4 linked regions of the Homo sapiens genome follow. Changing the gene in region 3 together with the main gene of any one other region gives a genetic interaction. Each region holds a gene or a part of one and is shown on either strand. Other genes may lie near its edges.

Region 1 (5,740 bases), 4.4 Mb from region 3:
GCACATCTCTTAGCCCGGGCCACCTAGGTCGAGGCTGTAAAAATAAGACGTTTCTCCAATCTGTTGTCATCACTTCCTTTAAGGCAGGCAGCATAGTATAGTATTAATAGAAAGATCGCAGTCCTGAAGGGAGACAGACTTGAGTTCAAAACTCCACTTTGAAGCTGAGCAGCTGTGTGACCTTGGGAAAGTAGAAGTAATCTCTCTGAGCCCGTGAAATGGATCCCAGAAATGGTTATTTAGAGGATTGAATTAAACTAGGTAGCGTCTGTATGTAGTACGCACTAGATAAGTGGTAATTATTGTGACTGTGAGGGTGTTTGATGTGGTCATTGGTTTATTCCTATGTAGGTTGACTCATATTTACTCATACCTTGCCAGGCCAATTCATCTATGATAATATCCTGGCCTGCTGGACCAGTCAGGAAATCAGTCTCACAGGGATTGCTCTGTCTCCCTTGAGGTGGGTTCAGGGAATTGTCCTCTTCTTTTCCTCGTTGAAGGCAATGTCAAGGCCTTTTCTGCACATCATCCCGCAGACTTGACTTCCTATGGAGATGTTTGGACCGGTCAGCTTGGTGGTGGGGTGTGAGTCCTTCTCAGAAGATTTCTACTCTCCTCTGGTCCAGGATGTAGGAGATCCCAGAGGATAGGGCACTCTTGGGCCCGCAGAACAGAATGGAGCCATGGAATTCTGTCCCTTTTGGAACATGATTGCCAGGGGTCAGCAACAAAGGCCATAGCTTTCCTCCTAGGCCTGGCTTCAGGCTAGAAGTCTCCCAAGGGCTAGGGCAAGCTGCTGCCTTGCTGATATGGTGGAAAAGTGATGATAATGTTCAGTGATCAGTTGGGATTCCAAGGGCAGAAATTGAGCTTTGCTGGAAAAGGGTGTTTTTGAGTGGGTGTCTCCTGGCTGAAATGGAATAGGAAGCTTCATTCCCACCTGAGGAGGGCACCACAGGCCTCCTTATCCAACTTGGTGCTTTCTGGTGCTCAGCCACAGATCTAGGATGGTTTCAGATAGATCCTCTAGGAGGTGTTGGGTAAGCGAATTTCTTCCTTCTTGGAGTCTGGCCACAGATTTCTGAGGTATCCTTGTCCATGGTGAGGGAGTGGCAGTGGGTAGAGGGTCAGGAAGGCTAGTGGAAGGGAGAGGCAGGAGTCCTGGGCAGCCTCAAGGAGGCACTCCCTGAAGTGGTTGGGCAAGCCTGTGGGAAAAAGAGGCATAGCTGACGTAGGGGGTAGTTGAGGCCTGAATTCCTTTTTTCTATCTTGGACTGACTTAGGCAGGCTGGCCTTGTGTAGGTGTTGTTACCCTGCTTTGGGGCATCAGGAAGGGGAAGAGTGACATGTCCCAGGTGTGCATGGCCAGCAGGAGGCCGTCCTTTTCACTGCTCAACAGTGTGCTTCTCTCTAATCCAGGATACCTGGCTCTCTGGTTTGGTTTTGTTTTTTCCTTCTCTATGGCAGCTCCTAGGCCACCTTTAGGCAGCTGGCCTTCTTCTGGTTGAAGTTTGAAGTACTCGCTCAAGTGATGCTTGGGCCCAGGGTGGGAACCTGTATATGGGTGGGTACCTGGGAATTGGAGGTTTGCTGGAGGAAGGATGGTTTGGGGCCTGAATTGCTGGGCAGGTGACTGCTACGCTTGGGAAAGATGGGTGGGAGGAGAGTGTGGGTACCCTGAGTAGACCCAGTGGAGTTTGGAAGGATCTTGCTTTCTTCATCAGGTAGCCAGCCTTTTTTTTATCACCACATCCCAGTAATACCAACATACATTTGGCATACAGTAGTCTGGAGATGAAGGCAGGCGGTTTGCAGGGCCTTCCCAGGTATCTGTTGCATCCATGGCTCCTGCCGTAGCATTCCAGGGCTGCCATTTCCTGTCAGGTGCTTGATGTTGCACTGATTGTCTAGAACTTGATTCAGCAGGAAAGAAGGGTGCCCGGAGTTTTGGGTTTGAGCACCTTTTTAGCTGGGTTACCTGTGCTGAGGGGAGTGCCCTATCCTGATGAGAGGCAAGAGGGCATGGGGAGCTTGTCTGGATTTGAGCCATACCATTTTGGCCTGCCTGTTTTTTTTTTTTTTTGTCCCTGCTTACTGAGCCCCAGATGTTTGCCACCTGCTTTGGCTGGTAGGGGCAGGGGAGTGTGGTCTGTGTATGCATGCAAAATATGAGTCCTCTAGCCCATTTTCTAAAAGTGTGTGTGCAGAAGAGGTCAACAGTTTTTCTTCTCTTTCACTGTCTCTCCCCCCCGCCCACGTGTATGCATGTATGTATGAACATTGATGTCTGGTGTAGTGCAAAGGCCTTGGATCAGAGGTCAGAAGACGTGGGTTCTTGGCCCCACCACTAACTCAGCATGTAATTTTGGAAATTTCACTTTTTTTCTCTGAGCCTCACTTTCCCCATTTATAAAATGAGAACATTGGTTTAGGTTACTTTAGGTTGATTTCACCACCCCAGCAGGAGCCAGGGCTCTGGGAAGGAGAGGTCTGCATAGGAGGTTGGAAAGGGGTGTTGGAGAGGGGGTTCTTCACAGCTGACCTTTGGGCAGGACACAGCAAGCTCCAACTTGGCAGAGCAGAGTGTCTCCCACTTTCATGATCTTTCCCTGACTTCCCTCCCCAAATCCTCCCATTCTTTGCCACCACAGTCAGGCATCCCAGCACTTACCCCCACCCCCTGGGGCTTCCTCCCCTGCCTCTTCCTGTACCAGGCAGGTGTATGAGAGAGGATCTACAGGAAGCCTTCCAGACTGGGTGAGTGATACACATACTTGCTCCCTGTTCCTTGCTCTTCCCTGCAGTGTCTATCTCAGGCCCTTTAAACTGAGAGAACAAACATTAAAGGCCCAAACCTTTACGTCCTGCCACAATCGGACCTGAGCTACCCTGCATGTGTATTGTGAGGTGTGGTCAGCCTTAGATGTCAGGTCATAACGGTGACTCCTTTGAATAACATTTTCATTTGAAAACTAGTTTTAATTTTCCATATTGGTCTGGCAAGGAAGCCAGGGCTAGAGTTCATATTCCCACCTCACAGATGAGAAAACAGGTTCAGAAAGCTAAAATCTCATAGCTAGTAAGTAGCGGATCTAGAACATGAACCCATATCTTCTGACTCTAGATCCTGTGTGCTTTCCAGTACTCCCAGGCCTGTGTGTCCTACAGCACGTGCCTAGGGGATAAGGAATTAATGTGGGTGTGGAGAAGGTTTAGGGTCAACAAAACAGAGGCTCCATCTCTTAATTTCTTGAAATCCTGGCACTGTACTGTTGGGTGGGACTCAGGAGAAGTTTCCTAGGGCATGTGCATGGGGCCTTGGGTGCAGACTTGAGGGGCTGCTAGACTCTTGTGAGTTCTGGGGGGAGGTGGGGGTGGGTGGTTGGGTAGGATGTTTGCAGGTTAAAGGGTCTGGAGTGGCTAGAGGTTTGGGAAGGTGCCAGTGGGATTCCGAGCTGCTTTTGGTGACTTCCGGTCTTACACTATGCTGAGATAACTCAAGTCCCTTTCCCCTCTCTACCCTCTCAGGACTGGCAGCCACCCTTTGCTGTGGAAGTGGACAACTTCAGGTTTACCCCCCGAATCCAGAGGCTGAATGAGCTAGAGGTGAGAAGACTAGGAGCTGGTGGTGGGGTTGGGAGAATGTATACCTGAGTTCTAATCCCACTTCCCTTATAGTTTCTCTGGCTGAGGTACTTTACCTAGCTAGGCCTTTATTCTCTCTTCTGTGAAATTGCATTACTTTAGTGTGCCCAGGGCGTGGAAGAAGCTTTAGAGCTCTAAATATAACCAAGAGCCAGGGGCATTTAGCATTTGTGATTTGATAGCCCAAAGGCTGGGGACATATATCCCTTTCTCACAAAGGTTTGCTACTTCTGAAACTCCCCTGTAAACTAGCCTACCCTAGCTGAGTCAACAAAAAGGAATTATGGAACTGGCTGATACCCCTTCTTCCTTGGCCAGCTGAATGTGGCTTCATATATCCAATTCATCCACAGCCCTGTGCTTTCTACTTTGCTTCCATGGGTGCTTGGTAAGGTGGGAGTTTGGGTAGATGGGCAGAACAACACAAGAACTGGGCTCTGTGGAGGCTGGAATGGTTAGAGACTTGGCCAGGGGTCAGGCAGGTAGGATTTTCCTTCTCCCTTTTGTTCTGTACAGGAAGTCCAGGCCCTTTTCATGGACAGGTGGGGTTTTTCCTGCTTGAGAATGCCCTGGGGTAGTGAGATTAGGTTCCCTAAAGCCAGTTCCACGTAAGATCCTGGAGTTTTCCATGGCAGCTCTAGGTTAGGCATATGTTGCCACTCCCTCCCCCATTATTATGTACCCACAAATCTTAATAGATGTCCAAGGGGTGGGGCATTAGGCCCAGGCCCAGCTGAATACTTATACCCTAAAAGTTCACTTGTGTTCTAGACCAGAGTTCCTCAGCCTCGGCACTATTAACATTTTGGGAAGCTAAGGTGGGAGGATTGCTTGAGCTCAGGAGTTCAAGACCAGTTTGGGCAACATAGCAAGACCCCATCTCAGAAAAGAAAAATATATCTTGTCAGGTTTATAGGGGTACAGCTTGGGCAAGATGTTGCCTAGCATGACACAAGGGCAGGTTTTCTGTAGAGGGAGTGCTGACTAATAAGAAGGAGCAGGGATGAGGCCAACTTCAGAAAGCTAAGGGGCTGAGGTTGAAGGAGCACTTCCTTGCCCTTTGAGAGTTCTCACAGCCAAGGAACTGTAGGTTGTTTCTTTCTACAAATAGACCTTAGTTTTTCTCAACTATGAAATGGAAAGAGCTGTCTTTGTTCCCCCTAATGGGATCAGGGCAAGGTAGTGAATGGTAATGACTATCTAGTTCTTCCAAGAACCAGGCTCTCTGACTGGAGTGAGGAGGTTGTAGACTTGGGGCCTATGGGAGTCCTTCTTGGTTACTGAGATTTCAGGGAAGCATCATACATATCTTGTTTCTAGTCTCCTTGGCCCACATTGGGTCCTGGGTTGGCCAGGTGCTAGTGCTACTCTGATATACCATCTCTTAGTTCTAGGCCATTCTGTCTATAGTTATAGCATGCACTTTCACCCTTTAGCCACCATGGAACAAGTTTGGTGGTACATAAGGAGGTGCATGTGCCTTTTTGGAGCTTGCTTTCTCTGAAACATGCCTAGAGCTTAGATATAATTCTGAAATCTGCAGAGGATCTTCACTGGTCCCCTCATTAAGTCTACCCCTCTGGGGTAAGTGGACTGTGCAGTTATTTTCCTTTTATAATTATTAGTAAAAGGAAAAAGGAGTCCACAGTGGAACTGATTTGCTCAAGGCAGCATAGCAAATCAGTAGCAGAGGGAGAGCCAAAGCTCAAATTATTTGGCACCAAAATATCTTGATGCTTGCTGTGTGTCCTAACTCCTCTGAGCCTCTGTTTCCTCATCTGTATAGGAGATGATAATACTCACATGACCTTGTCAGGGAGATTAGAGGACATATCTAAAGCTTTTGGCAGTTGTGACCCTCTCTATTGGGACCTTGGGCTTCTCTGATTGACTGGAAGGTGACAAATGAGAGAGAGGTGGCTGGGTGCAGTGGTGCAGTGGCTTGTGCCTGTGATCCCAGCTCTTTGGGAGGCCGAAGTGGATGGATTGCTTGAGCTTAGGAGTTTGAGACCAGCCTGGTAACATGGTGAAACTTCATTGCTACAAAAAATACAAAATTAGCCGGGCGTGGTGGCGTGCGCCTATAGTTCCA
Region 2 (8,104 bases), on a different chromosome or scaffold from region 3:
CCTTGATCTTGCACTTTGTGGCTTCTGGAACTGTGAGAAATACATTTCTATTGCTTATAAGCCACCCAGGCTACACTGTTTTTTTGTGATAGAAGCTCCAATACACTAAAACAATCAGTGTCTTTAAAACTGAAGTGGATTTTCCTACTTCTAAACTAGTTTTTATATACTGGAAACTATTAACGTTTGCTTTTACTGTTTCCAGATCTGGAGTTGAGAAATGAGATGGTTTAGAACCTAAAGATAAAGGAAGGAGGAACCTCATCATCAGTGAATACTCTGAATATCCACAACATACTACATCTGCAGGCTTTCAACTTTTGTTGACCTCTTTGGAACTCTATAAGCTCCAGAATGAAGATGGAAAACCAGTGAGCTACATGAATTAAGTGGAACACAGATCAGCATGGTTTCAGTTCCTGGAGGATTGAACATCAAAACAAACAAGAAACAAGGGCAGCTGAAGACGGCTGTTTCCAGGCTGGGCCTTCCAATGAAACCAGCCCAGCACCCTGGAGGACCTGGGCTCACAGGCACAAAGCAGGAGATGATGGAAGATAGTACCGAGGCCAGAAAATGGCACAGAAGAGCCTAATGTGTTAGCAGTGGGGAAATGAATATGACACAGTATTACCTATTGACAAGAAAGACAACAGGCATAGCTCACTGCTAACCCTACAATGACACCTGGTACAAGCAAGGCCAGTGAGCTTGCGAAGAAGTGTGGATGCTGGGGGCTTGTCTAGGCATGGATACCTGAAGCATTGGTGCGAATGTACAAGATCTCACTCTTGGCCCCACGGATATGGTCGTTCTCCACCATGGTGAGGGTCACAGCCTTGACGTAAACGGCGTACTGAGTCCAGGGCTTCAGCCCATGTAGTAAGATGCCGGGCTCCACGTCCTTGTTGGGCGGGAGGTCCACGTCCACCATGTTCCAGCTGTTGGAGCCGCAGGCATCCTGCCCATCATACTCTGTGACATTCTTAAAGGGTCTGAAAGACAATTAAGTTCAGAGAAAGTTCGGGGCTCTGACATCAAAACCCTCAAAAATCTTCCCCAGAGGCCCAGCATGTCACACTTTCTATAATGGGAGGTCTAAATAAACAAATAATCAATTAGACTTTTATAGAAGAAGAAATGAAGTGACTGGACTCTGGGCTTCCCCAGTCGGGCATTACAGAATTGAATGGTCTGCCTCAGGAAGAGCCACTTCAACAGTTACTGGGATTCAATAGTTACTATTCCTTAAGAACATATGCAAAAACTATTTTTCTCTCTTCTGATTGCAGCATTTTTTCATCAAGAAAAAAACAAGCATAGTCAGTTAATGCAAATATCAGATATTGAAAGAAGGTAACTGTTGGAGAAAAATGACTTTCCTACAGACAAACAGAAGTAGCTTCTAAAATTCAGATTGCTCATAAACAATTCTGATGCTTAAGCATCTTATAATATTCAAATATTTAGTTTCCAGATTGCCTTAGAAACCAGCATCAAGTCCTCAGTGAAATTACCAGCTGACATTGCCAAAGCACTGGTGTGACTATCAGAGAATATAGTACTTCGCACAGATGCATGGTTGGGTAGGTATTTTATATTTATCAGCTAAAAGGGCTGGACAGCTGCTGGCCGCTGGCTTCTGAAACAAACATGAACAAAACACCGTCTGCTGTCATGGGATGGGAGATCATGAGGGGCTCCCCTGTGTACAAACTCTGAAAGCCTAGTAATCCTAAGTACCCAATTTCTCATTCATAGGACCCCAGCTCTGGCAGGAGGAAAGAGTACAAGATGCTGTCATAAGGTGCCTCTGGTTGCTGCTCTTTGGAAGCCACACATCTGGGAGAGAGAACTATGGGATTAACATGGGACCTGGGTAAGGGGGATGGCTAAGTAGACCGGGGTAGCCACCTGGATATAGAAGGCAAAGGAAGGAAGAGGGAGATCAAAGAGGGCTGCAGTCGGGAGGAATAAGCCTCGGCTGCTTAGATGGGGGAATGTCATGTGATCACACAGGAAAAGCTCCCAACAGAGTCTAGGAGAAGTCACAAAAGGCTCAAGACATGAAGGTTGTTCTCTCTCCACTTTTCTTCGCTTGTTTGGAAGGCTCATGACCTAGAGCAGAGGGCCACAGCTTGGGAGAGGCACACAGAGAGAGAGACAGGAATAAGATGATACAAAAGAGCCACGTGCCTGCAGGGTGTTCCTGGAGTAGGCCTAGTAGGTAAGGAGGCTGAAACGATATTTCAGTGAAGTCCCCCATCATCGTTCATGAGTCTGGACTGACCTAATTCTGGAAAAAGCAAGCTTTCCCCATTTTGGGTTTATTTTATTCAAACACCTCTAATCACTCACTAAAGAATGACAGGCCTCGAGCTAACACTTTCCCAATCATGGCTGTCACTGGCTGTGACTGACATCACAGGGACAGCCCGAGAGGGTGCATGAGGATGAAGTAGGGATGTTTGGCGTGGCTCTCCCTGGGGACTCTGCTGACCCCCTGTATTCAGCCAGCCCATTCAAGGATCGAAAGACTGGCCTCTCCCATTCGTAGCCCTGTCAACAGAATGGCATCACCCAAAGCAGAAACTCACGCTTCCTTGTAGTAAACGGTGAAGCTGATGAGATCCCTGTAGTCAGGGGGCCGGTACCGGTGCCAGGTTATGATGATGCGATTCTTCGACGTGGTGGTGGAGGTGAAATGCAGGACGTCACTTTCACCTGGGGCAAAGAGTACATCCGTGAGTGACAGAGATTCATGTGTCTCTGAAAAGCACCTGTCTTGCTTGGCACTGCTTCCCCCTTCCCCAAAGCTGGCTGTATATGCTAAGTTCCCTTCTGGGCTTCCTCAGTGGCTTTCTCGTTTTCCACTAAGAAATCATACATTTCACTATGCAGAGCTCCAAGGGCTCCATCCTTTGTTTTAGGTCAATCAGTTACGCTGGCTACTTGCCCAGGGACTTGGACATGAACCTGGGTTTCCTAACCTGAAAACAAGGGGCGACTTCAGTGAACGAGGTGAACTTATCTTTCTTCTCCATCCCTAAGATCCTGGCTATGAAAGGGGGCCTGGTAGGGTGAAGGTGAGCCTTTAGGCTGCCCTGAAACTTCTTAAGAGAGACGATGACACTTGTTCTGCAGTTGTGGATATCTGCCTGTTCGTGTACAACCACCAAAGACAGGTAAGAGACTACAGGTGTGCCACAGAAAGGAACTTTTCTTGGTCTAAACTTGGTATCAAACTGGAAGGACACAGGAACTCCTGTGAGGCCTCCAGCTAGGGCTGACAAACAACGGGAGGCTGGATTAAGCACTGACAAGAAGATCTCACTTGGCCAAGCCTAACGTGCTCTATGGGAAGTAGCCTGGCTGGCGGGTATGGCAGGGAAGCTGTGCCAAGTGTCTCTCTTATTCCTTGGACCAAATTCAAACTACGATAAGGACCAGGGAAAGACTGATGACTGCCCACCCTCATGGAGACCCAGAGCTCTCTGACGAATTGTCCTTTCGCCCTCTTATCTGCCTGAATCCCACTACACACTCAAGAGGTGAAGCAGAGGGACTGAAGACAGTAAAAGAGCTAAGAAGTCTTTAGGACAAAATGTGCGCAACTGAGATTGGGAAATGTCACAGTTCCTGCTGAAGTGTTATTTAGAGAGGAAACCATGATTTTGCTTTCAAAAGAAAATAAACGGCTACTATGTATTATGATCTGACAGGTCAGACTGGCTGACTCTAAGGAGACAAGCACTCTGAAATACTCGGATACATCCGATTTTACTATGATCTGAACAGGGAGCAAGGCAGGGGCTTTGCAGGGATAGAGTGAGCAGGGGGCGGGAGGCGGCGCTGGTCGTCAGCCTGCTGTTCAGCCCTAGGTCAGTCAGCGTGCTTCCCTCTAAGATCCCCCAGAGCAACAAGTGTCGCCAGGTAAATCCAGACACCAGCGAAACAAGCCAAAGCCAAACACGCATCGGTTCTGATTTGCCTCCCTGCATGTGTGTCTGTCTGCACACACGCACAAATCACCCTTCATCATACAAATTACTTTTTTTCTAATACCCTTCCCTTATTAAAAGCCAAAGGTGAAAAGACGATTTACTTTTATAACCCTATCCAGCCAGAGAGCCACGCCATTCTCAACAGCCGTATTCTACACAGGGTTAGATGAGAAAGGCACTGCTGTATCTCTGATATGAGACCTTAAAGTTTTATAAACAGTACAAGGCTGTAATTATATTGTTCTCAATTTAAAAAGCAATATCAACTCAGGGCTGCAGGCTCACTCCATCTTTTTCATGTTGGGGTGGGAGAAACAAGGCGGCCGAGTGTAAGGGACAGGAAACCCGTGGCCCACAGGGGCTGCGCTTAGGGCAGAGCCCCCTCCACCCCACAGGCCTGTGCTTCCCTTCTGTGGGAGCAGAAGGGTAGAGCTCATAGGGCTGAAGCACACTGGCTCTTCCCTGAAAAATAATCGGACAGGGCATGGTGGCTCAAGCCTGTAATCCCAGCACTTTGGGAGGCTGAGGCACGTGGATCATTTGAGGTCAGGAGTTTGAGGCCAGCCTGGCCAACATGATGAAATCCCGTCTCTACTAAAAATCCAAAAATTAGCTGGGCATGGTGGCAGGTGTCTGTAATCTCAGCTGCTCGGGAGGCTGAGGCATGAGAACCGCTTGAACCGAGGTGGAGGTTACAGTGAGCCAAGATCATGCCACTGCACCCCAGCCTGGGTGACAGAGTGAGACTCCATCTCAAAAAAAAAAAAAAAAAAGAAAAAAAAAGAAAAAAAAGAAAAGAAAAAAGAAAGAGAAATATCTAACTGTGCACCTGTGTATAAAAGGACATTTAACTGTGCATTCTGTAAGCAGCACTTTAAAGTTTGAGAACCTACTTATAAGTGTTTCACACACTCACAGAGATGTACAGAATTTATAAATACGAATACATCACGTATCTGCCCACTACTGATTGTGATGACATATAAGTAGGAGCAAAGTGCTAGTTAAGATGGTCTAGTGGTCCCCCATGTGAAACCAGGAGGGGCCGCAGAGGAAAGCTGCCATCACACATGGGAGGAGGGTCTGCTGTTATCATGATGGTTGGGCCCACGGTGTTTTGGATGCTGTCACTCACAGGAGGCTCTCTCCCCGTTGTTCCTGGTGTTTATGTCCCCTTTGCTTTGGCGCCCTTTAGTCCCCGTCACTTCCTCCATGCGGTAAATTTCGGAAACACATAATTTGGGATTGAAAGCAAAGTACATTTTCCCTGCTTTGATGGTCAGGTTGCGGTGGTCCCAGTCCCACAGTTGCTGCAAGTTCTGGTTGTCGAGGACGTAGAAGGAGTAATTCCTAGAAGCACAGAAATCGATGTTAGCGCACCTGCCCTTGGCCACAGTCCCCTCTAGCCTGCTGGCCACGTAACACAGGTCCTCTTTGCCACCTGCTCCACAATACATTTCCTTTGCCAATAAGAGATTTAGTTATTAACACTATAGGAGAACAGACAGTTGCTGTTAACAATGGCAGCAACATGATTCAAGGATAACATATCAAAATCGGTAAGATGCTAATTAATTCTATGACCACTATTACCATCAAATAATGCTTCTTGTACCAGAGGATGTTACTAGAATCATTCCCAAGAAATGCCTTTGGTTATTTTTCTCAGCCAAGTATGTACAACGTGCTTGAAAGCAGTCCATGAGAGAACAGACATGCTCTGCTACCCAATCGGAACAGCGTACACTTTGCTCTAAAGTCTCCCATTATCCATGGAAGTAAATCCTGCCCAATCAGCAGCATGATGGGATAGGAGACAGCATGAGACAGGGAGACAAGCTTGTGGGGGGTCAACCCTGGGCCTTCTCCCTCCCCCATTCATCTTTCATTCTGAGCAGCCCCAGCTCCAGTCCCTGGAGGTGTGGGGGAGGAGGAAGAGCCACTAACATGCAGTGCTCTTGGGCCTCTCATCCAGGCAAGAGGACTCGGAGTCCAACACAGTGGTTCTCCAAGTTCAGTGTGCACAAAGCTTGTTTGCAAAGGGCTGGGCCCCACCCCCAGAGCTTCTGATTCAGCTGGGGTGGGCAAAGAATCTGCATTTATCACAAATCCCAGGTGGTGCTGACCCCTGCTGTGGTCCCTGGACCACACGTGGAGAACCAGCAATCTAGGAGAGGCTGAGTTCCAGTGAGGTGGTGGAGGACCAAAGCCCACCAAACCAGACGTGGCTTCTGCCCCAGAGGGTGTGCACACGAGTAGCAGATCCAACCAGCACAGGAAGCCGTTCTATCTGGCTACCCAGGTGGCAGGACAAGTCCATCCCTGGAGAGGCAAGAAAGCAGACAGCTACGGCTTAGGTCTAGAGAAAGATCCCCGCAGTGGGCCTTTCTCTCTGGCTTCCCCAGGAAGGCAGCAGACAATGCCAGGGTTGACTTCTGAGTCCTCTGTGCTGATGGGCCTGATCCCCATGGACCGTGAATCCTTCTTCTCCTCTTCCTGCTCTGCTTCTTACTAAGTTTGGGAATCAGTGCAGTACTTTGAGTGACTTCTAAGATCCACTCACAGATCTAATGTATAAACACACAAAGGAGAAAGAACCCCAGCCCTCCCTGCAGAGCCAGCGTAGCCAGGACAAAACAGAACCCCTAAGGCTTCGTCTGCCCTGGAGGCTATGTCCATTGGGGATCTCTCTGCATCTGGTGAGGGTCTTCATTTACACCCAAACCAGGACCTCTAACCAGCTGGTCAATCCTCAGCCTGATTCTCATTTACAGTAAAGCACAAATTATGGTTACAATGCTGCCAAGCAGCCCTGTGACATTTTCCTGAACATTCACAAAGGGACGTCAGACCAGGAAGGAGTTCAGAGACTGGGACCCAGGACCAGAAATGCCATGAATGAGCTGCACAGCCATGCGCAGATCCCTTAGTGCTATCTGTAGCCCTGTTTACTCACTCGTAGGACAACAAGGGGAATGCACAGGTGACATCTAAGCTCCCTGTCTACTTTAAGAACGACCAGAAGGAGTCACAGAGCCACCACGGAATCTGCATCACAAGCCTGAAGCCCAACCCTTTCCTGAGCACTGGGCTCTCTGTCCACACAAGTGCTGGGGGTGGAGGTTGGAGTCCTGCCAGCACAGGGGTGCAGTGAGCACACAAGTGAGTCGAAAGACAGAGCCTCTGAAGCTAAGTCAGGCTCCTCACACGCCCATCTTCAGGCCTCTGGACACATTAGTGACCACCAAACCGGTAGCAAAAACTTGTAAGTCAACAGTTCTTTCCTTTCAGTAAGGGCTCCCTCCTGAACACACAGCTATCCTGGAAAAGCAGCATAAGACATTGTCCAAATGATCCCAGATCTGGTCAATGCAACACAAGGTGTGTTTCCTGGGGAGCAGTGCCAGGATATGGCCCAGCTGGCGCTACTGTTGCTGGGGGTAGACCCCATCCATACCTGCTGTTTCTCACTACCAGGCTGCAGGTGACACTGCTGGAGGTCAGAGGGGCTCCATGCAGTCATACAACGGAAGGAGGGATGGAGTGGAAATGGATGTGTCATAAGCCCATTCTTGCTCATAGGTTTCTCCAGCTCCAAAGGAGACTGCAGCGATGCACCCCCAAATGTCGGGCTGCTTCCAGGTACCTGAGTTAGTTACAGGACAAAATCTCCTTGTTGATGAAGAAACCTCTGGGCTGCCGGTAAGGACCAATTAATCAGGCCAAACTTCCATCTACACCCAGAACCAGGCCTCTTTTCATAAACTAATTTCACTAGCAGGGAACGGAACCACACCAAAAATACCTTCTGAACAAAACATTCTTCTCCCCCACGGGAGGAAGCATGAATTATAAACCAGGAATTTGACAAATGAATGGCAGGCACACTGAAATTCTGTGTATTTGACTAATCACTTTGAAAAGCAAGATTATCTTTTTACAGTAAACACAAACATTTTTTACAATCATTGAAGAGGCTGGGAGCCAGGATACCAATATCAATAAAACCCAGGCATTATGGAGCCTGTGGAAGCTAAAGAAAAATAAAAATAAAACCCTTGTCAAAATAATAATCAAGCCATTCATGAGCTGCCTGTCAA
Region 3 (8,104 bases):
AGCAGGGCCTGGCTGCAGTTTAGCCTCGTATGACAATCAAAACCCAAAGGTTCCCCACCCTGGACAGTTCCCTCTGACTCAGGGCCTAAAATGGATCTGTGTCTCCTTTTTTTTTTCCTCTGCAGGATCTGAACCTTGAGGCTGAAGCACTGGCTGGCACTGGCTTGGTGTTGGATGAGCAGTTAAATGAATTCCATTGCCTCTGGGATGACAGGTGAGGCTGGGTCCTCCAGGCTGTCTCCAAACCACAAAAATACACACACTTAGAGCCCATTAGCAAGAATAAATCTTTTCTTACCCCAGCCTGGATACTGGAAGCAGATGATTTGGGGAGGTAGGGCTCACACTTGAAAGGGTTCTTTTATGTAGCTAACAAACATTTATTGAGTGCCTATTGTGTGCCAAGAGTTGGTGATACAAATGTACCAAACAACAGACAGGGGTCCTTCTCTAGGAGCGGATTGATGAGTAGGAGGGCAGATCATTAAACAGCCAACAGCAGTATGAGGTGTTTAATGAAGACAGACTTAAGACCAGGGGATTCAAGGGTGTATAATAGAGGATCCTAAACTAGTATCCGGGCTTCCCAGAAGCCTTTATAGAGGAAGAGACGTTTGTACTGAAACAGAAGGATGAAACCTCCCGTTTGCTTTACTTTTCAAAAAGAATCAGCAAATCCTTTTGGCTATATGTTCAAAATATATTCACCATCTGACCTCTCCTCACCACCTCCACTGCCACCATCATCATCACTCACCTAGACTTGCAGAGGCCTCCTCCCTGGTCCCCTACTTCCAACCTCACCTCTATTATCTGTTCATGCAGCAACCTAAAAAAATATGTATGAGTTGATGTCTTTGTTAAAATACTTTAAGGAGGCCAGGCATGGTGGCTCACGCCTATAATCCCAGCACTTTGGGGGGGCCAAGGCAGGTGGATCACTTGAGGTCAGGAGTTCGAGACCGGTCTGACCAACGCGATGAAACACTGTCTCTACTAAAAATACAAAAATTAGTTGGGCGTGGTGGCACACACCTGTAATCCTAGCTACTTGGGAGGCTGAGGCAGGAGAATCGCTTGATCTGGGAGGCGGAGGTTGCAGTGAGCCGAGATTGTGCCATTGCACCCCAGCCTGGGCAACAAGAGCAAAACTCTGTCTCAAAAAGTAAAAATAAAAAAAAAAAAAGTACTTTAAGGGCAAACTGTTGCCCTCAAGGTAAAGTCCAAATTTTTCATCCTGGCCTCAAAGGTTCCACATGATCTGGCTCCACATCACTTTGTGACCTCATCAGCCAATCCTTCTCGCCCACACTACTCCCCTTGTTCTTCCAACATGCCAGGCACCCTCTTGCCTCTGGTCTGTACCCTGACCAACCCCTTTCCCAGAGATTCTTTTCGGTCTTCTACTCTTCCAGCTGCCTTTCACATCCCAATGAGACTTTCTCAGAGAAGGTTTTGCCTGGCCAAACCCTACCCCAATACCTGATCTTATTTTCCTAGCCCATGACATTGTTTGCTAATTATCATACTTGTGTGTTTACCAATTAATATCTATATCCCTTATCCCAACCTAAGACTAACTTACTATGGGAAAAAGACTTCTTTTATGGAATACCTATTTACCATCTATTGAGGAGCTAGGGATACAGCAGTAAACAAAACAAACAAAAGCCTGTGTCTTCAGGGTAAAGGGGGAAGACAGACAATAAATAAACAAAAAGTAAATGATGCACTGTGGTAGAAAGAGCAGTGTTATGAAGAAGCAGTAAAGGGAGGATAGTAGGAGAAAGTACAGTGGAGGAGACTTCAATTTTAAATAGGCTGGTCAGGGAAGGCCTCACTATTTGAGCAGGGATCTGAAGAGGTGAAGGAGTAAGTCATGGAGACAGTTGGAGGAAGAGTATTCTAGGCGGGGGTGGGGGGGCCAGCTAGAGTAAAGTTCTAGGGCTGGCTGAAGAGTATTTGGTTCAACTGAGAACCAGGGAAGAGACCAGTGTAGGTGAAGCGAAGCAAAGGAAAGAGGGAGGGGTAGGAGATGGGGTCAGAGAGGTGATGGAGGACAGATTGTTTAGGGCCTTCTGGGCATGGGTAATACTTTGGCTTTTACTCAGAATGGGATGGGAGCCTCGAAGGGACATGAACTGATTAGGGTTTTAACCAGTGTCTAGCTGCTATGCACAGAAAGGACCGTTGAGGTGGCGAGGGTCGAAGCAGGGAGGCCGAGGAGATGCCGCCACAGCCCAGGCGGGAGGGTATGGTAATAGCAGTGGCAGTGGTGAGGAGAGGGTCACACACCAGAGCTGATGGGAGGCAGGACTGACACCACAGTTTTGGGGTAAGCAGCTGTGGAAGGGTGGATGGGGAGATGTGGAGAGAACAGATGTGGAGCTCCCCAGTGTCCTCATGCATCTGTGACTGTGACTCCATCTCCCCAGCTTCCCGGAAGGCCCTGAGCGGCTCCATGCCATCAAGGAGCAACTGATCCAGGAGGGCCTCCTAGATCGCTGCGTGTCCTTTCAGGTAAGGCCCCCAAGCCAACACTCTGGGTGAAGGGCAGGGAGCTGACCTGACCTGGGTGCAGCCCATGCCTTAACCCTTTACCCCACTTTATTCCTCATCTCTCCCCAGGCCCGGTTTGCTGAAAAGGAAGAGCTGATGTTGGTTCACAGGTGAAGGCTTGGGAGCCTTGTAGGGATGGGGAGGAGCCTGCCCTGGACAAACCAGGGCAAGCTAAACGCTTTGGGAAGCAATGTCATGGTCTCTGCAGCCAGCCTTGGGCAAGTCGCTGAGCCTTTCTGAATCTGTGTCATCGCCTGTAACAAGGGGACCAGTAAACATAAGTTCCTCAGGAGAGTTTGATGTGTGTCAGGTGCTTAGAACAGGGCCTGATATATAATCAGCCCATGATGAGCTATTACTGTTATCATGATCTGATTGTGTGAATAGATGGTGGATGTGTGGACAGAGTGATCGGGGTTCCCCCAGGGGCTTCCAGATTTAGAGGCCTAGTGCTATGTGGCTTGAGGAAAGCTAGCTTCCAGAGCAGGTATCTGAGCTGAACTTTAAGAGGAGAAAAAGAGTGAGTCAGATGAAGAGGGTGACTGAGGGAAGGGAAGAACAGACAGCTGAACCAGTGTGGCCAAAGGCCTGAAAGTAGGATTTGGTGTGGCTACTGCAGGGGAGCAGAGAACATTACCTGAACTGAGGCGGGCTAGGGAAGAAACAGAATGTGTCTTATATCCTGGCTATTCCTTCAGGTTGACAGTTGGGGGAGCCAAGCCCTAATTTGACCAGGGGGTTGGTGTATGGACAGCTCAGTTGGGGAAGAGACAGGGCCCTGAATCTCATCTCCCATCTGTGTCTAGCCTAGAATATATTGATCTGATGGAAACAACCCAGTACATGAATGAGGGAGAACTCCGTGTCCTAGCAGACACCTACGACTCAGTTTATCTGCATCCGGTATGGATGAGAACTCTGCGGGCAGGGAATGGTGGCAATCTTGGGGTCCCCATCCCTATGCCCACCCCACCCTGGGGGAAGCAGCTGAGTGGATAGGGCTGTTCTCTCCCTTACTCCCTTTCTGGCTCCCCACTGTCTCTCCAGAACTCATACTCCTGTGCCTGCCTGGCCTCAGGCTCTGTCCTCAGGCTGGTGGATGCGGTCCTGGGGGCTGAGATCCGGAATGGCATGGCCATCATTAGGTAGGACTCTACAGCATTTGACTTTTTACATTGTTTTAAAGTCCTTCCTTCAAGTGTAAAATGTATTGATATGGGTAATATATTCATGTGATTCAAGAATCCAAAGGTAAAAAAGAGAATATAATTAAAAATCTGTCTCCCATCCTTGTCACCCAGACACCTGCCTCCTCTCATGGGAGGTAGTCATTGGAACCACTGACTCATGTGTCCTCCCACAAAGTCTTATTCAAGAAATAAATACCATATTTCATTGATTCTAAGGTGTACATTTTTTCATATTTGTAACATCTTGAAATCCAGATGCATCTTACAAACAGTGACATCTCAGAATTCCATTGGCAGTATTTTCTGCTTCGTTTTTGGCATGTAAAATCATGGTACATCTTATCATCATTGGCATCCCAGAACTGATGAAATGCAAAAGCTTTCTCCTCCCTCCCCTGTTTTTAACCACAAATGGTAGTAACATGACATACTCCCTTCGTACCATCTTTTCACTTACACATCTTGGAAACCTTTCTCTAACAGTATGTATCTTGGAGCCCGGTAGAACACCATTGTGTAAATGCACTCTATGTTAATCAGTCCCCGACTAATGGGCATTTTGGTTCTCCCCAGTCATTTGCTGTTTTAAAAAAATGCTACAGCAAATATGCTAGTACCTTTATAAAAATAAAATTTTATTTTACACTAACATAAAATAAAAATGTTACTTCACCCTTTTTAAAACACAGGTTGTGGGCTAAGTTCCTGCAGCAGAATGACTGGGTATGAGAATGAATGCGTTGATCATTTTATTTTTATTTTTATTTATTTATTTATTTTGAGACGGAGTCTCGCTCTGTCACCAGGCTGGAGTGCAGTGATGCAATCTTGGCTCACTGCAACCTCTGCCTCCCAGGTTCAAGTGATTCTCCTGCCTCAGCCTCCCAAGTAGCTGGGACTACAGTCGCCCGCCACCACACCCAGCTAATTTTTTGTATTTTTAGTAGAGACGGGGTTTCACCGTGTTGGCCAGGATGGTCTTGATCTCTTGACCTCGTGGTCCACCCACCTCGGCCTCCCAAAGTGCTGGGATTACAGGCCTGAGCCACCGCACCCGGCCTTTATCATTTTAGTGAACATTTTCAAATCTCCTTTGGAGACAGAGGGGTAGATTGGCAGGGGGTGAGAGTTTGAGGGCCTCCATTACTCAGTTCCCGGCAGATTTTTAGGCATCAGCATTAAAGGAATTGGTGGTCCAGGATTAGAGAGCAGGGGACAGTCTGTCTCTGCAGAGGAGGACCCCTCACATACTCCAAGCTGTTATTTCCTTGTCTTGCCCAGGCCTCCTGGACATCACGCCCAGCACAGTCTTATGGATGGCTATTGCATGTTCAACCACGTGGCTGTGGCAGCCCGCTATGCTCAACAGAAACACCGCATCCGGAGGTCAGCAACAGAGGGCAGATGTGATGGGGGTGGCATGGGGTGGGGTGTCCTGGTCTGGGCTCTTCCCCCAGATTCACCTTGATCTCCTTGCACAGAGTCCCCTCTCTCTGCTGCTCCTAGGGTCCTTATCGTAGATTGGGATGTGCACCACGGTCAAGGAACACAGTTCACCTTCGACCAGGACCCCAGGTATACCCCGACTCCCACCTAGGTGCTAGACTCCCAGCCACCTCCCACCCTTACAGGCCCAGCCAGAAGGGGTCCAGAAGGAGGAAAAGGCATTCACATTCATGGGGCCTATCCTGGGATCAGGATCTGTGCTACTTTTGTGTGTCTGCCATCTCTCCTAATTTCACTCTGAGGCAGGGACTGTTGGGTTCCCTATTTTACAGATAGGGGGACTGAGGCTTATACGTTAAGAGGTCACACAGAGAAGAACTGGGAGAGACGGGATTTGACCCACAAATATTTGAAGATCTTATTCACTGATTAACCGTTGGGTTAGAGTGAACCTCAAATTACTGCTTTATTTTTTCTGATTAGGATAATGCTTCAAAGTGTTTGTTTATCCTTTCAGTAGATAGTAAAAAACAAATATAAATAAATAAATAACAAACTATTTGTTTAAAGAAATTAAATAATACAGAAGTGTCTGAAGCAGTGAGTCTCCTCTAATTTCCATTACCTCAAAAATAAGTGTTGACAGTTTAGGTTATATCCTTACAGATTTTCTCTATAGATGTCTGAATTTTTATTATTATTGTTATAATTATTAATAACACACTGCCTAATGGAATAATTCTCCACATGTTCTTCGACAACTTGCTTTATTCATTTAACAGCATATCTGGGACATTTCTCCATGTTAGTACCTCTTAAAGTATCTCGTTCTTTGTAGTATTCAATTTTATGACTGTACCTCTGGTTATTTAACCCCAGGACTTTTAAGATGCCTGCCAGTTTTTGCTATTACAGGCACTTCTACTGTGAATAGTCTAGTAAATATGTAATTCTGCACTTCTCTGAGTCTATCTGTAGGATGAATTTCTAACAGTGGGTTGCTTGGGCCAGAGAGTCAGCATACTTTAAAGTCTGGTATACACTGCCAGACTTCCCTCCAGGAGGGGACCAGCTTACCCTTCCTGCAGAAAGTGATTGAGCAAGTCCTTGTCAGTAGGAGACATTACTAAGTACATGTCGAGTATCCCTTATATGAAGTGCTTGGAACCAGAAGTATTTCACATTTCAGATTTTTTCAGATTTTGAAATATTTATATTATACTTAGTGGTTGAGCATCCTTAATCTGAAAACCCAAAATCCGAAATACCCCAATGAGCATTTCCTTTGAGCATCATGTTGGCCTTCAAAAAGTTTAGGATTTTAGGGCCGGGTGAAGTAGCTCACTCCTGTAATCCCAGTACTTTGGGAGGCCGAGGCGGATCACCTGAGGTCAGGAGTTCAAGATCAGCTTGGCCAACATGGTGAAACCCCGTCTCTACAAAAATACAGAAAAATTAGCCAGGCGTGGTGGCACACACCTGTATTTCCAGCTACTCAGGAGGCTGAGGCAGGAGAATCACTTGAACCCAGGAGGCAGAGGTTGCAGTGAGCTGAGATCGCACCACTGCACTCCAGCCTGGGTGATAGACTGAGACCCCATCTAAAAAAAAAAAAAAAGTTTAGGATTTTACAGCATTTCAGATTTCAGATTTCTAGATTAGGGATGCTCAACCTGTAGTAGTTTTATCTAGCCTTCTTCCTAGCTGACTACAGAGAATCCACTTATCCAAGATCTGAAGAATCCAATTTAGGTTGGTTGTTCTCTAGACATTGCTTTATTATTTTGCAGCATTCAGTGTTCCTGACAGGTGTCTGCTTTTCATTCCTTTCCAAGTAATCTACTTTCCTCTCTGCAAGGTTATCTTGGTGTTCTTTTTTTTTTTTTTTTAAATTATTAGACAGGGTATCACTCTGTCACCCAGGCTGGAGTATAGTAGCATGATCATAGCCCACTGTAACCTCAAACTCCTGGGCTCAAGCAATCCTCCTGCCTCAGCCTCCCAAGTAGCTAGGACTGCAGGCATGTGCCACCACACCCAGCTAATTTTTTAAATTATTTGTAGAGACAGGGTCTCACTATATTGCCCAGACTGGTCTCGAACTCCTGACCTCAAGTGTCCTCCCACTGCAGCCTCTCAAAGCACTGAGATTACAGGCATGAGCCACTGTACCTAGCCTTGATGTTCTAAACTTTTACCCTGGCCTTTTCACTCTGTTTAATAGTAGGTAGACATTTTACATCTGAAGATTCATGCTTTTCTTAAACTCTTGGAAATTATTTTCTATTAGATCTTTGATAATTTCTTCTTTGTTTTCTCTGTTCTCTTTCTAGGACTTCTGTTAGTCAGATGTTAGACTTCCTGGGTTGATCCTCTATGTCTCTCTCTTTTTTATTATTTATTTATTTATTTATTTATTTATTTTTTTTGAGACAAGGTCTTGCTCTGTTGCCCAGACTGGAGTACAGTGGCACAAATACGACTCACTGCAGCCTCGACCTCCCGGGCTCAAGCAATCCTCATGCCTCAGCCTCCTGAGTAGCTGGGACCACAGGTGCACACCAGCATACCCAGCTAATTTTTTAATCTTTTGTAGAGATGGGGTCTCACCATGTTGCCCAGGCTTCTTATTTTTTATCTTATGTTTTCTGTCTCTTTTTTCTTTTGCTGTGACCTGGGAGATTTTGTCAACTTTATCTTCAAGCCCTTCTGTTGAATTATGTATTTAGATATCCTGTTAAACTCCAAAAGCTCTTTCTTCCTCTCTGTTTCTATGTCCTCTCATACCTGATCTTGTTTTTATAGAGTATGGATTAGAAGTGCCGGCTGGGTGCGGTGGCTCATGCCTGTAATCCCAGCACTTTGGGAGGCCGAGGTGAGTGGATCACTTGAGGCCAGGAGTTCGAGAC
Region 4 (7,098 bases), on a different chromosome or scaffold from region 3:
TTGGGTACTGTTTAAGGCATTCAGTTTTATAAGGGAAGCAGAGCATAAAAGTTTGGAAAATTTGCAGCCTAGTCCTGTCCAAGAGAACCCTGATTAATACAAAAACATAGGGGAAAAGCTTCATGATATTGGATTTGGCATTAATTTCATGGATATGACACCAAAGGCACAGGCAACAAGAGAAAAAGACAACATAAACTTCATGAAAATTAAAACCTTTTGTACATCTAAGGACACCGTACAAAATGAAAAGGCAACCTACAGAATGGCTCTATCACCCAGGCTGGAATACAGTGGCGGGATCTCAGCTCACTGCAACCTCTGCCTCCCAGGTTCAAGCAATTCTCCTGCCTCAGCCTCCCAAGTAGCTGGGATTACAGGCGCCCCACCACCATGCTCGGCTTTTTTTTTTTTTTTTTTTTTGAGATGGAGTTTCACTCTTGTCACCAAGGCTGGAGTGCAACGGTACGATCTCGGCTCACTGCAACCTCCACCTCCCGGGTTCAAGTGATTCTCCTGCCTCAGTCTCCCAAGTAGCTGGGATTACAGGCGCCCACCACCAAGCCTGGCTAATTTTTGTATTTTTAGTAGAGACGGGGTTTCACCACGTTGGCCAGGCTGGTCTCAAACTGCTGACCTCAGCTGATCCACCCGCCTTCGCCTCCCAAAGTGCTAGGATTACAGGAATGAGCCATTGCGCCCAGCCTTGCACCTGGCTAATTTTTGTATTTTTTAGTAGAGACAGGGTTTTGCCATGTTGGCCAGGCTGGTCTCGAACTCCTGGCCTCAGGTGATTTGCCCACCTATAGACCTCCCAAAGTGGTGGGATTACAGGCGTGAGCCACTGTGCCTGGTCAGTACTCTTTTTTAAATATTTATTTTTAGGCAAGCTCTTGCTCCATCACCCAGGTTGGAGTGCAGTGACACTCATGGCTTACTGCAGCCTCAAATTCCCAGGCTCAAACAATCCTACCACCCCAGCCTCCCTAGTAGCTGGGTCTATAGGTGAGCACCACCACACCTGGCTAATTTTTCAAAAAATTTTTTGTAGAGATGGGTCTCACTATGTTGCCCAGGCTGGTCTCAAATTCTTGGCCTCAAGAGATCTTTCCGCATAGGTCATTTTTTTTGTTTTTGTTTTTAAGAGACGGGGTCTCATTATGTTGCCCAGGCTGGTGTCATACTCCTTGGATCAAGCAATTCTCTTGCCTTAGTCTCCCATGTAGCTGGGATTACAAGTGCATGCTCCTGTGCCTGGCTCAAAAAATCAAGTAGCTGGGATTATAGGTGCATGTTACTGTGCCTGGCTCAACAGATTTTTAATTTAAAAAAAGCTTCACTACAGCTTGATTACTAAAGACTAAAGACTAAAATTGGACCCCAGTATCATTTAAGCCATTCCTGCCAACAAAAAGCTCAATTTCCAAACACTTTAATACACATGGACTCTGGACCAAATCCCCCGCAACTGTACTGATGTGCTTCGAACTCACCTTCGCTTTGGTGCCCTAATGAAGAGCTCACAGAGAAGTCTGCCCTGTTCATCCTTATAGTCTCGGATGGTATTATAGAGTTCATGGCACACGGCAATCTACACATTAGCAAAGGAGAAAAAAATCACTAAAAAAGTGAACAGAAAGCCAGTGTAGACATAAGAATTATTTTCTACTCTTCAATAAAAGGCAAGTAGAGAAGAAAAATGATGACTCTCAATATTACCAAACATGCTAAAGTCTGAAATATGCTGACAATATGTCTCCTTTCAAACAACTGAGTTGACTAACTTTTTGGTATCTTTCATCAGATTTATGCTCCTGGTGATTTTGTCTTCTAAACTATATCAGTTCATCACTTTCTTGCTTAAAGTCATCCAATTGAAGGGTTTTCTTCTTTGAAACTAAATCAGTTTATCACTCTCTTGCTTAAAGCCATCTGACAGAAGGGTTTATCACTTCACAGAGAATAAAATCTAAACTCCAAACATTGCTTGTGTGGGCCCTACATACTCTGAATGGGTGGAGCTTGCCAGTTTCCTTCTCCTTCCTGACCATCCCCTGCTCTGTAACCAAGACACACAAAACTCATCCCTGACCCAACCCCTCTGCACTGGTTCTGTCTGGAACTCTCTTCCAGCGAATTCAGGCCAAAACAGCCCAAATCACCCAAAATTTTCTTCTTAGCACTTATTACTAGCTAAGGATACATTATTCTTTATTCGTTTACTTGTTTACATTCTACTTCCCCCGCCTGGAATCTAAGTTCCATGTGAAAAATGGGCTTGTTTCCACATGGCTATATCCCAACCATGAGAACAGTGCTTGTCACATGATAGTCACACAGTTATTTGCTGAATTAATATATGATGTAACATACTGAAATTATTCATAAGATCACACTATTACTCTAAGACTTAGCTGAATACATAATGTTCATAAAAGAAAAGACTATTAATCAAGAGAATCTTAAAAAAGTGGAGATGCCTTGCATCGTAACAATTTTACCATTAAAGGGAAGATAGGGGAATTGTGGGAAGAGCAGGCAGAAACCATGTAATCCAAGTTACTCACAGGATCTACAGTTGGAAGATTGGAAAGTCTCCTCCTTTTCCTGCTTGGGCCTGGTGTTGACACAGAATGGTGCCCATCATCAAAGTCCCCGCTGACACTGCTGGAAGGGGAGGTAGCTCTTCTTCTCTTGGAACCCATGGAATCCAACTTCTTCTATAAGAAATAATCAGCCATGTTCTTACATTTAAATAGACTCTGTCACCAAGTCTTCAGCTGGACACCTGCTACCAAACTCCTGGCTCACTTAGGAGGATATTTTAACGTGTTGTAGTTTAACTAGCTATAAGTTTTTTTTTTTTTTTAAGCCCTGGACTTCCTTGTTTTAGTCTTTCACTTACCAGAATGCTATACTTCCAATTTTGATGGGACAAATTCAACAAAAGCATATTCATTTGTATATCAGCAATCTTGAATGACTCAACTTCTGGCTCCAAATTTGGCCTAGAGTTTCCCAACCTATATGTAGCAGTACATTAGTGTGCTGAAGGTATTAAGCCTTCAGCCCATGAGGCAGTCAGGCAGGCCTGGGGTACAGAGGCCCCAAGGTATCCACCTCTGGAGTCAGCACCTCATCTGCTTCTCTATGTGCCTTACAATTATGATCATTTGCTAGGTGGGCCATCATGTGGAAAAGAGCAAGAAGCAGAGCCCAGGACAAATGAGTAGTGCAAAAAGGTAAGGGGACAGAGGACAATTAACCTTCTAGCACTTTAGATGTACTCTAAAATTAAAACCCTGAAAATGAATGTTCTCCATTCATTAAAACAGGATCCACAAGACATATCCCTGGAAAACACTTAATGAGACTTGCTATACCTAGACAGAGGTACAAACTATCCTTTGAAACTCTTCTGTTAATTCAAACTAATCACCTTTTAGTGATATGACATACTCTAACTATAACACGTACTCTATTTAACTATAACAATTTTAACTATAACTCTATTTACAACACAAGAAATGCAACCACTGAATGATCTGCTACAGATAGTATATACCCAAGAAAGTCCTGCAATGCTTATATTGCAATACAATCTAACAATACTATCAAATAGTATATTGTGATTTGAAAGGCCTTTTTCTTTCTTTCTTTCTTTCTTTTTTAGGTGGAGTCTCGCTCTGTCACCAGGCTGGAGTACAGTGGCACGATCTCTGCTCACTGCAACCTCCCTCCACCTCCCAGTTTCAAGCGATTCTCCTGCCTCAGCCTCCAGAGTATCTGGGACTAAGGCGTGTGCCATCACACCCAGCTAATTTTTGTATTTTTAGTAGAGACGGGGTTTCACCATGTTGGCTAGGATGGTCCCAATCTCTTGACCTCGTGATCCGCCCGTCAAAGGCCTTTTTCTAAAGCTAAAAGAAAAAAAAAGATCCCAGTTTCACTCATCAACACTGAAGGTATTGATCCTTCAGCCCCTGAGGTAGTCAGGCAGGCCTGGGGTTCAGAGGCCCCAAGGTATTCACTTCTTGAGTCAGCACCTCATCTGCTTTTCCATGTGCCTTACAATTATGAGGAACCTCATAGAACTAGAGTACCTCATAATTGTAAGGCACATGGAAACACTGAATTTCAGGACACTACGACACCAGCAGCTGAATGATTAGAACAGGAGAACACTGGTTGCCAGCAGTATGGAAAGAAAGGTTGGGGATCTCCAGGAAACAGAAAGAAGGAGCAAAAGAATCACATTTGAAAATCCTGGTGAGCAATTAAGGAAAAAGAGAAGTCTCAGATCTCTTTTTCCAAACTAAAGTCCACATGGTGTTTAAAACAAAATCTACCACGATGATGTTCCTTACTCTAGGCTTCGGTTTGTTATACAGTATTATTAGTTTGAAGTTGGCTAAAAGTAGTTAAAATCGTCAAAAGGCTTAGCCAAAACTTAGCCAAGTTTTGCTGATTTTTGTTCATTTTATAAAAAGCTGATCAACAGGACTCAATTCATTAAGATAAATTAAGGACCAATCCCTTTTAAACAATCTATGACAAAGACACAAGTGAATTTGATGAACATAAGGAGGGAATCTTTGTGGAAAGGATAACAAAAATTTAAGAAAGGTGGAAGGAAAAAGTCAAGGAAGGACAGAAAAGGGAAAGGGTGTAGATAATCAGTAATTTACCAGCTTTACCAGAGCACAACCAGCGCCTCGAAAAGCCAGTCTCCTCATTATGTCTGAAAGCCAAGTGAAGCCAGTGGGAGAAGGAAGGGCTTTAGAAGTGCTGATTCAGTGTTAGTATATTCAAAACTGAAAAAGAAGAACAAGGCAGAGAAGGGGGAAATAGAAAAGAAGGGTCAGAAGGAGTAAAAATGAGTACGAATAGATAGAAAACATTCAAATAGAACTGCTAAAGAAAGATAAAGAGAACTGGAGAAAACAGGCATATCAGTTCTCTTGTACCTATCAAACAAACTGCTGCAAAGGCTCAGGCACTAACAGTACCTGACAGTTCTTCCATTTTAAAACCAAATGCTTTCATATGTTTAAAGATGTCTCATTGAGGTTCCCCTTTACTCACATTAGGAATGACTGTCAATTCCAGGAATGAGGCATGCCTGCCCAACTGCCCCCTAGTCAATAAGAGCAGAGTTCAATCACAGAGCTGGAATGGAGAGTGAATACATGTGGGAGGCTCACATGTGACACCAAGTGTTGGCAAGCTGGAACAAACCAAGAATGGCTCATGTGAGCAAAAGGTCTGGAAAACACCCTCCCCCACAAAAAAAAAATTCAGAGAAAGAACATTTATTTCCAAAAGTCCTATCTGCATTGGAGACACCATATAAAAATTTGACAAGGTTAAAAAAAAAAAAAAAAGGGCCAACCATTTTGGCAGGAGTTCAAAATTACTTTTATAAATAATCCACTGAAAATCAAATGACAAAAAAATACATTATCAGCATGTGTATGTCGTTCGGATGACACAATATCCCAATATCCTTGAATCATTAATTTACTTTGGTAAGATAAGAAAAAGTTTCAACTTAAGGATAATTTTCAAGTATTTTCTTATCCATGGGACACATTTTAAAATGTATTTTGAAAGTCTGACAAGAAGGGCAATGTTATAAGGTGGGAGAAACAACAGGACCTTTGCTCCTAAGACCAGAATAGGAGTCCTAAGTCTTCCACCTCTGATTATCAGCTTGATGTTGTCTGATTAGTTGATGTAACCTCTCAGATCTGTTTCATCTCTAAAATAAGAACGTAATGCCGGGAGTGGTGGGTCATGCCTGTAATCCCAGCACTTTGGAAGGCCGAGGCCAGTGCATCACTTGGAGTTCGAGACCAGACTGGCCAACGTGGTGAAACCCTGTCTCTACTAAAGAAAAATACAAAAATTTAGCTGGGTGCGGTGGCTCATGTCTGTAATCCCAGCGCTTTGGGAGGCTAAGGCGGATGGATCACCTGAGGTCAGGAGATCAAGACCATCCTGGCTAACACGGTGAAACCCCGTCTCCACTAAAAATACAAAAAAAATTGGCTGGGCTTGGTGGCACGCACCTGTAATCCCAGCTACTTGGGAGACTGAGGCAGGAGAATCGCTTGAACCCGGGAGGCGGAGGTTGCAGTGAGCCGAGATGGCACCACTGCACTCCACCCTGGACGTCAGAGCAAGACTCTGTCTCAAAAAAATAATAAAAAAAAAAATTAGCTGGCTGAGGCAGTGCATGCCTGTAAACCCAGTTACTTGGGAGGCTGAAGCATGAGAATTGCTTGAACCCAGGAGGCAGAGGTTGCAGCAAGCCGAGATCATACCACTGCACTCCAGTCTGGGTGACAGAGCGAGACCGTCTCAAGAAAAAAAAAAAAACAACATAAAGTGAAATCACTTCTGCATGTTCCCCAGGCACAGGAACAGCATATTCATTTTTGTAGACCTGTCTTACAGGATAGTATTTGGTATAGGTTATGTGCTCAGTTTATCTTTTAATAAATGTATTAAAAGTGCACTTAGGGCCAGGCACAGTGGCTCATGCCTGTAATCCCAGCAATTTAGGAGGCTGAGGTGGGCAGATCACCTGAGGTCAGGAGTTCAAGACCAGCCTGGCCAACACGGTGAAACCCCGTCTCTATCAAAAATACAAAAAATTATCTAGGCAAGGTGGTGGCATGCACCTGTAATCCCAGGCACTCGAGAGGGTGAGGCACGAGAATTGCTTGAACCAGAGAGGCAGAGATTGCAGTGAGCTGGGATTGCGCCACTGCACTCCAGGCTGGGGGACAGAGTAAGACTGTCTCCAAAAAAAACAAAAAAAAAGTGCACTTGAGACCTTCAAAAAAAAAAGTTTATTTGTATAGTTTAAAAGTCCTCAGCCAGGCACAGGGGCTCATATCTGTAGTCCCAGCACTTGGAGAGGCTGAGGCAGGATGACCGCTTGAGGCAGAGAGTTCAAGACCAGACTGGATAACATAGATTGATCTTTTCTCTACAAAAATTAAAATTAGCTGGGTGTGGTGCTGCACATCAGTAATCCCAGCTACTTGGGATGCTGAGGTGAGAGGACTGCTTGAGCCTAGGAGCACAAGG

The links.
Region 1: changes in HDAC6 (region 3) and KDM5C together harm fitness more than expected from each alone (negative genetic interaction), as found in Homo sapiens cells (one large-scale study listed by BioGRID).
Region 2: changes in HDAC6 (region 3) and IGF1R together harm fitness more than expected from each alone (negative genetic interaction), as found in Homo sapiens cells (one large-scale study listed by BioGRID).
Region 4: changes in HDAC6 (region 3) and PBRM1 together harm fitness more than expected from each alone (negative genetic interaction), as found in Homo sapiens cells (one large-scale study listed by BioGRID).

What each region holds. Positions count from the first base shown.
Region 1 is NC_000023.11:53,218,708-53,224,447, reverse strand, and holds part of KDM5C (lysine-specific demethylase 5C), read left to right. Parts: intron 1-3,531; coding exon 3,532-3,609; intron 3,610-5,740. UniProt on the Homo sapiens protein: Histone demethylase that specifically demethylates 'Lys-4' of histone H3, thereby playing a central role in histone code. Does not demethylate histone H3 'Lys-9', H3 'Lys-27', H3 'Lys-36', H3 'Lys-79' or H4 'Lys-20'.
Region 2 is NC_000015.10:98,905,935-98,914,038, reverse strand, and holds part of IGF1R (insulin-like growth factor 1 receptor isoform 1 precursor), read right to left. Parts: intron 5,355-8,104; coding exon 5,140-5,354; intron 2,725-5,139; coding exon 2,598-2,724; intron 996-2,597; coding exon 757-995; intron 1-756. UniProt on the Homo sapiens protein: Receptor tyrosine kinase which mediates actions of insulin-like growth factor 1 (IGF1). Binds IGF1 with high affinity and IGF2 and insulin (INS) with a lower affinity. The activated IGF1R is involved in cell growth and survival control.
Region 3 is NC_000023.11:48,803,003-48,811,106, forward strand, and holds part of HDAC6 (protein deacetylase HDAC6), read left to right. Parts: intron 1-125; coding exon 126-214; intron 215-2,435; coding exon 2,436-2,520; intron 2,521-2,628; coding exon 2,629-2,669; coding exon of another isoform or gene 2,670-2,673; exon of another isoform or gene 2,674-3,365; coding exon 3,366-3,462; exon of another isoform or gene 3,463-3,606; coding exon 3,607-3,704; exon of another isoform or gene 3,705-3,958; intron 3,959-5,030; coding exon 5,031-5,135; intron 5,136-5,255; coding exon 5,256-5,324; intron 5,325-8,104.
Region 4 is NC_000003.12:52,677,007-52,684,104, forward strand, and holds part of PBRM1 (protein polybromo-1), read right to left. Parts: exon of another isoform or gene 5,086-7,098; intron 4,815-5,085; exon of another isoform or gene 4,737-4,814; coding exon of another isoform or gene 4,689-4,736; intron 3,921-4,688; exon of another isoform or gene 3,857-3,920; coding exon of another isoform or gene 3,854-3,856; intron 2,721-3,853; coding exon of another isoform or gene 2,706-2,720; coding exon 2,568-2,705; intron 1,592-2,567; coding exon 1,494-1,591; intron 1-1,493. UniProt on the Homo sapiens protein: Involved in transcriptional activation and repression of select genes by chromatin remodeling (alteration of DNA-nucleosome topology). Required for the stability of the SWI/SNF chromatin remodeling complex SWI/SNF-B (PBAF).